Linked DNA regions of Homo sapiens. The protein of the gene in region 1 purifies or fractionates together with the protein of each later gene. This does not show direct contact. Each region holds a gene or a part of one and is shown in the gene's direction. Other genes may lie near its edges.

Evidence for each region. The genes of interacting proteins can lie anywhere in the genome.
Region 2: the proteins of LRRC17 (region 1) and LRBA purify together in Homo sapiens (affinity purification with mass spectrometry; one large-scale study listed by BioGRID and IntAct). This does not show direct contact.

What each region holds. Positions count from the first base shown.
Region 1 is NC_000007.14:102,911,718-102,915,799, forward strand, and holds the start of LRRC17 (leucine-rich repeat-containing protein 17 isoform 1 precursor), read left to right. Parts: upstream 1-1,282; 5' UTR 1,283-1,368; coding exon of another isoform or gene 1,369-1,498; exon of another isoform or gene 1,499-1,677; intron 1,678-4,082. Other genes in the region: FBXL13 (F-box and leucine-rich repeat protein 13), read right to left, coding at 1,369-1,498. UniProt on the Homo sapiens protein: Involved in bone homeostasis. Acts as a negative regulator of RANKL-induced osteoclast precursor differentiation from bone marrow precursors.
Region 2 is NC_000004.12:151,005,285-151,008,784, reverse strand, and holds part of LRBA (lipopolysaccharide-responsive and beige-like anchor protein), read left to right. Parts: intron 1-3,500. UniProt on the Homo sapiens protein: Involved in coupling signal transduction and vesicle trafficking to enable polarized secretion and/or membrane deposition of immune effector molecules. Involved in phagophore growth during mitophagy by regulating ATG9A trafficking to mitochondria.

The sequences.
Region 1 (4,082 bases):
GAAACAAGAAAACAAGAAGTCAGGGCCTAGAGTCAGTAAGAAGCTGGTCTAAAATTCAGTCATGCTGAGGAGAACGTCAATGCCATCTCAGTCATAAAGTTATGGTAGATGTTGATGTTTAAAAAGCTACACATCAGCAGATCAGTTTTAAACAAATATGAATGTTAGATGTTTACAGCCCTAACTTAGAATCCTCCCCTCCTTGCCCCAACTCCCTCCAGACCACCCAGGGCATCAGGATACCACAAGATGTCAGTGGAGGTGACTAGGTAAGAATTCTATCCATTCAAGAACCCTGGGGGAGAAACCCATGCTGCCCCTGTATTTCCCACTATCCCAGGGAACTCTGCCTGCCCCAGTATCTAGCAACAGATGCTTAAAACTGTACTAGTACCATGTGCTTTCATCAGCTGTGCAAACTTGGGCAACTTATTCAACCACCCTGAGCCTTGGTCTCTTCATTTGTAAATAAGCATAGTAAATACATACCACCACAGCACTGTATCAGAAGTAAATCTGATCTGTGTATAGCACTCAACACAATGCTTGGCATATGGTAATGACTCAAGAAATGATAACTATCAATATTTCAGCCAGTTCTCACCTATGCTATTATTCTCATAGAATAATGAACATACTATGACACCAAATTAATAAAATACACAGAGAGGCAGAAGAAAATAAGTTAAAAGAATTATGGCTTAAATCTTTTGAAATTAAAGCAGAAGAAACTATCAATGAGGCAGTAGCTACATCCAAAGCGCCATGCCCTATCCTCTGCAACTTGATCCAATTTTCTGCCCAACTTTCCAAGTCCTGTTCCCTCAAACTTAAAATATTTTCCCACGCAGATCTCAAATCTTCATGTTATTCAGCCCAACGGTGTAATGCAATTTTTTAAATTATGAGTTTTTGTTGTATTTTCTTTTCCTATTTATCACTTATAGCATTTTACCCCCCCCCCCCCAAAAAAAAACCCATGTGGGAGTTAATTGACTTTTCAGGAATCCCATGCAAAATTCTCCCTCAAAACATTCTCTTTGTTTGTGTCTTGGTAGCAACTCCAGAGTTTTCAGGACTTGGACTCTGCTTTAGACTTGTGCTCAGACTGTCTCCACAAAAGTGGTCCGTTTCCTCATCCAATGAGCTCTGCCTGTTTGTCTGTGTGACACTCCAGTGGAAGGAAGCCAAGAGCCTATAATAGCGATCCTGGGGAAAATTTCAGCAGCTGGGGCCATGTAATTTAAAACCTCTGAAAAGTGTGCTGCGGTCCGTGCACAGCATTAGTATAACGTGAGGGCTGAATGCAGCCCATTCTCTGGAGAACTTCCTCACACACCGCAGCAAAGAGAAGACTGAAAGACAAACCTGGGTGCAGCCAGAGAGGTCCAGATAGATGAGCTTGTGGCATCCATTCCCCAAGTTCAGGTACTGTAAGCCTTTGTCTGTGAACCGTCTGCAATAAGCCAAACTAAGATTCTGTAAGTTGTGGAAGTGCCTGAAAAGACAAAAGAGAGGAAGGAAAGTATTATACTTCCGTTGTTCTCTCAAATCTTTCTTAAGCCACTATGACAAAGAAAACTGTAAATTCAACTCTTCTTCTTGCAGATGTTCAACATTTAACTTTACTGTTAACTCTCTACCTGTTAATTAAAGGAGACTACAGTGTTATATAAGGTAACACACAATACATTTAATACCTTGTAATACATTTCAAGTGAAAGTATTAATAGTTCAATAATATTTGCCTAGATATTTAAGAAAGTTGACTGGGATAAAGCTTTTTTGGTGTGTGTGAGGTGGGGGAGGCAATCATATTGTTTGGAAGTGAAACCAAATTTGCAGAGTGTATTGTTGCTTTTAGGTTTTATCTCTGGAGTACCAAAATAATGTGCAAAATATATAAAAGGACAAATCCTTTGTAAACATTTAAATGGAGACTGTTACAGGAGAGTGAGGATTTGGGACAGAAGGCAAAACTGAATATGACCATGCTCTTAAAATAGATCTGATAAGCAAATGAGTTTAAAAAATAGGTTTAAATATGCATGAGTTTGTGACAGTTTCATTATTATAGTTAAAGAAAGACTAATTGATATGCAGAGTTTAAGCATGGATTAAGAAGACCAGTTTGCAAATAAGCAGGCAACACATGAGAAGAATCAAAAGCAACATCAGAGACTATAAATCTCGCTGGAGTTGAAACAGATTAAATATGGTATTACCACAATGACCAAAATGACAGCTTCCAGAAAAAAGTAGGGTAGTTAGGATGAGCCTGTACTACCATACGAGGGCTCGCAGTTTGAGGACACTCCGTGGACAATTTCCCAAGCCCTCCAAAGCCTGGAACTTTTTTTTGAGACGAAGTTTCGCTCTTGTTGCCCAGCTGGAGTACAATGGTGAGATCTTGGCTCACTGCAACCTCCTCCCCACTCCCCCAACCCCTGGTTCAAGCGATTCTCCTGCCTCAGCCTCCCAAGTGGCTGGGATTACAGGCGCGTGCCAACATGTCCAGCTAATTTTTGTATTTTTAGTAGAGACAGGGTTTCACCATGTTGGCCAGGCTGGCCTCGAACTCCTGACCTCAGGTGATCCACCCGCCTTGGCCTCCCAAAGTGCTCGGAACAGGCATGAGCCACCGTGCCCAGAAAGCCTGGCACTTTTTAAGAGGTCAAGGATTCCCACTACTATCTGCTCTTCTAATGGAATTAGCAATCATGCTCTTAGTTTGTGATATGCAACAGCTTAATAGCAAATTAGAAAGCAAAAAGAATGAAAAGTGAGGAGAAAATGCTTCTCTGCCTCTCAAAATCACACAGGTGAATAAAGTTTACCTCCCATAAATGGGAAATAAGATATACAAGCACTGACCATTAATCAGATTTTGAAAAACACATCTATATGATATAATGATTTGCATGCCATAGCGAATTACTTGATTCAGAACACACATCCCGATCTGGGAAGGGCTGTGTACGTGAGATTCGACAGAGCGAGGGGGAAGGCTTTGGACTCACCAGTGACTAGGTGGGCAGGGCCTGAAGGAGAAAGCAGTGCTAATATCCCAAAGACACGCCCCCTCTCTTGGGGCTGTCGAGTGGACTGAGCTGTGCTAAAGTTTTGGAAATGCGTTATCTTCCTCTCCCTGGGGTACACCCTGTGATTCAACTGAGTACAATTTTCTTGGGGTGGGGAGAGGCACACCAGGGTGTCATTTCTAGCAATCCTTTAGCTTTATAATCTGTAGAAAGGAGTTGTGAGGCAGGCCGCGTGACACAGTGCAAAATACACAAGGTTTTTGAATCCGGCCAAATGAGATGTAAATCCAAGCCCTGACACTTACTGCAACCTCCCTAATCTCTCAGAGATTGTTTTCTCATTTGTTAAGTGGAGATTAAAATATTTTTTTTTTTTTTTTTTTTACACTGATCAACTGTGGGGCCTCCAGCTTTCCTGAACCTCAGTTTTCTCATCTGGAACATGGATGTAATCTGGTCTGCTTGTTCCCTTTAAAGATGTGACAATTAAATGAGAATACAGAAGTAACAGTATTATCTTGAGGGTGATTTTAACAATCAAAATCGGCAGGGACATAGTAGAAGATTTAAAACTATATGTAATATTATTGCTACTACTATGTGAAATGATAGTAACACATTAACTATTTTTATGGACTTTGTATTATTCTTCCATTTAATGAAATGGATACTTATCTCCAAGAGTGGTGCATACAATAATTCCAAGAGTTTGAAGGATTTCACATTGAATGTATACCTCGATCTACACCTAGTATTCAATTTCTTTAAATCCATGTGATCAGTTAACAAATATCAAAAATGAGAACTGAGCTAGGAGTGCTTAACTTTTTTTAATGTCACAGACACCTTTGGCTTTTGGCAGTCAGCTGAGGTCTCTGGCCCCTTTCTTGGCATAAAGTTTTTAAATGCATAAAATAAAATATATAAGATTACAAAAACAGCCAATTATATTGAAATACATAATTACCAAATAAAAAAACATTTATGAGTAGAATAGTAATATATGTGCTTCTTTATTAACATATTAAGTAAGATTTTGTG
Region 2 (3,500 bases), on another chromosome or scaffold:
GCTAGACTGTTCTTGAACTCCTGACCTCGTGATCCGCCTGCCTCAGCCTCCCAAAGTGCTCGGATTACAGGCGTGAGCCACTGCGCCCAGCCTAGAGGTGGCTTTTTTAAACCTTCATTGAGATATGCAGTTGACTCTTGAATAACATGAGTTTGAACTGCATGGGTCCATTTATATGGTGATTTTTTTTTTCAACCAAACTCGAATTGAAAATACAGTATTCCTGGGATGTGAAACTGTTGCATACTAAGGGCTTACTTTTTATATCACTGGGTTCCACAGGGCCATTGCAGGACTTATCTGAGTATGCTCAGATTTTGGTCTATGCAGGAGTCCTGGAACCAATGTCCCCAGTATAGCAAGGGACAACTGTATTTTACATGCCATAAAAACCACTAATTTTAGGCTGGGTGCGGTGGCTCATGCCTGTAATCACAGCACTTTGAGAGGCTGAGGCAGGTGGATCACCTGAGGTCTGGAGTTTGAGACCAGCCTGACCAACATGGATAAACCTGGTCTCTACTAAAAATACAAAAATTAGCCAGGTGTGGTGGCGCATGCCTGTAATCCCAGCTGCTTGGGAGGCTGAGGCAGGAGAATTGCTTGAACCCGGGAGGCGGAGGTTGTAGTGAGCAGAAATCACACCACTGCACTCCAGCCTGGGCAACAAGAATGAAACTCTGTCTCAAAAAGAAAAAAAAAAAAGAAAAAAACTTCTCATTTTAAGTATACAAGTCAATGATTTTTAGTAAATTTAAAGAGTTTTGCACCTATTACCACAATCTAATTTTAAAGCATTTACATCCTGTGTTCATTACTTTATAGTTTTAGCTGCTAAATTTAGGCCTATGATTCATTTTAAGTCAATTTTTGTATGGTGTGAGATAAGGGTAAGGGAAAGGTCTACATTCTTTTTTTTTTTTTTTTTGAGATGGAGTCTTGCTCTGTGGCCCAAGCTGGAGTGCAGTGGTGCGATCTCGGCTCACTGCAAGCTCCGCCTCTTTGGTTCATGCCATTCTCCTGCCTCAGCCTCCCAAGGAGCTGGGACTACAGGCGCCCGCCACCACGCCTGGCTAATTTTTTGTATTTTTAGTAGACACGTGGTTTCACCGTGTTAGCCAGGATGGTCTCGATCTCCTGACCTCGTGATCCGCCTATCTCGGCCTCTCAAAGTGCAGGGATTACAGATGTGAGACACCGCGCCCGGCCTACATTCATTATTTTGTATGTGGATATCCAATTGTTAAGAGTGCCATTTTTTTTTTTGTTTTTTTTTTTTTGAGACAGAGTCTCGCTCTGTCGCCCAGGCTGGAGTGCAGTGGCGCGATCTCCGCTCACTGAAAGCTCCGCCTCCCGGGTTCACACTATTCTCCTGCCTCAGCCTCCCAAGTAGCTGGGACTATAGGTGCCTGCCACCAGGCCTGGCTAGTTTTATTTTGTATTTTTTAGTAGAGACAGGGTTTCACTGTGTTTGCCAGGATGGTCTCCATCTCCTGACCTTGTGGTCCGTCCGCCTCGGCCTCCCAAGGTGCTGGGATTACAGGCGTGAGCCACTGCACCCGGCTAGAGTGCCATTTGTTGAAAGGCTATTCTTTTCCCATTGAATTACCTTGGCACTTTTGTCAAAAATCAGTTGAGCATAAATGTAAGGATTTATCTGGACTCAATTCTTTTCCATTTATCTATGTGTCTATTCTTAAACCAGTACCAAATTGCCTTTTGTTTACTGAAGATTTGTGGCGAGTTTTAAAATAGGGAAGACCTCTTTATTCTTCCTTTTCAAGACAGTTTTGGCTATTCTGGGCCCTTTGCATTTCCATGTGAATTTTAGGATCAGCGTATCAATTTTTGTAAAAAAGCAAGCTGGGATTTTACTAGCTATCATGAGTAGATATTATTGGTTATATATTAATATTAATGATAATTACAAGAAATTTGGGTGAATTGGTGAAATTTTAAAACTTCAAAGTTTCCTGGAAGTGACAGACTTGATAATTTAGGTTCCTGCAAGCATACAGTTTTGTTGACCTTTGAATTGATTTATTTTAAACTGAGAAATCATTTGGGAACTGGAAAATCAGATTTTTTTTTCCTGTTTGTGAATTAATAGAAAAACTAAGTAAGCTTTTTATTTCTCATACTGACCTAGTTGAACTAATCTATTATATTCACTTTTTATAAAGCATCCCTTTTCACACACATATTCTTGAAAATATTTTAAAATAGTTTTTATATGGTTGAAACAGAAATGTCCACAATGCATTTTTGTTTTATAATACTTATATAGATGTACAATAAGGTATTTTATTTATCTTTGTATCTCCAGAACTTTTTGAAGTGTTTTGATACTTCAAAAGTGTTAAATGGAAATGTCTTAATTTTTAAAATAAAAGTACAATCTTTAGGAAGCCTAGTTCCTATTATTCTTTTATTTTTATTTTATTTAATTTTATTTTTTTGAGACGGAGTCTCCCTCTGTCACCCATACTGCAGTGTAGTGGCGTGATCTCAGCTCACGGCAGCCTCCGCCTCTGGGTTCAAGTGATTCTCCTGCCTCAGCTTCCCGAGTAGCTGACCACCACTCCCTGCTAATTTTTGTATTTTTAGTAGAGACGGGGTTTCGCCATATTGGCCAGGCTGGTCCCGAACTCCTGACCTTAGGTGATCCGCCTGCCTTGGCCTCCTGCAGTGCTGAGATTACAGGTGTGAGCCACCATGCCCTGCCCTATTATTCTTTTCCGCAAAAGATATATTGTTAAAACCTTGATGCATATTTCCTTTATTATTTTGTTTCCTATGAAGTTATTTGTTAGGCAGTTTGTATTTTTCATTGTACAATTTTGAATTACTTTAGTCTGTTTTACCCTTAAGAGAACAGTGTTGCCGGGCATGGTGGCTCACGTCTGTAAGTCTGTAATCCCAGTGCTTTGGGAGGCCGAGGTGGGTGGGATCACCTGAGGTCGGGAGTTGGAGACCAGCCTGGCCAACATGTTCTCTACTAAAAAATACAAAATTAGCCAGGCGTGGTGGCGGGCACCTGTAGTCCCAGTTACTAGGGAGGCTGAGGTAGGAGAATTGCTTGAACCTGGGAGGTGGAGGTTGGTGTGAGCTGAGATTGCACCACTGTGCTCCAGCTTGGGTGACAGAATGAGATTACGTCTCCAAAAAAAAAAAAAAAAAAAGCCTGGGTAACAGAGCAAGACTCTGTCTCCAAAAAAAAAAAGAACAGTGTCATTATTTTCAAAAGTCTCTTATAATCTACTCTGTATAGTTTTCTAGTATTCATTCATTAGCTCTCATCTAATGTGGTATATACAGGGTTTTTTTTTTTTTTTTTTTTTTTTTTTGAGTTGGAGTCTTGTACTGTTGTCTGGGCTGAAGTGCAATAGTGCGATCTTGGCTCACTGCAACCTCCGCCTCCCGGGTTCAAGGGATTCTCCTGTCTCAGCCTCACTGGGATTACAGGCGCCTGCCACCACCCCTGGCTAATTTTTTGTATT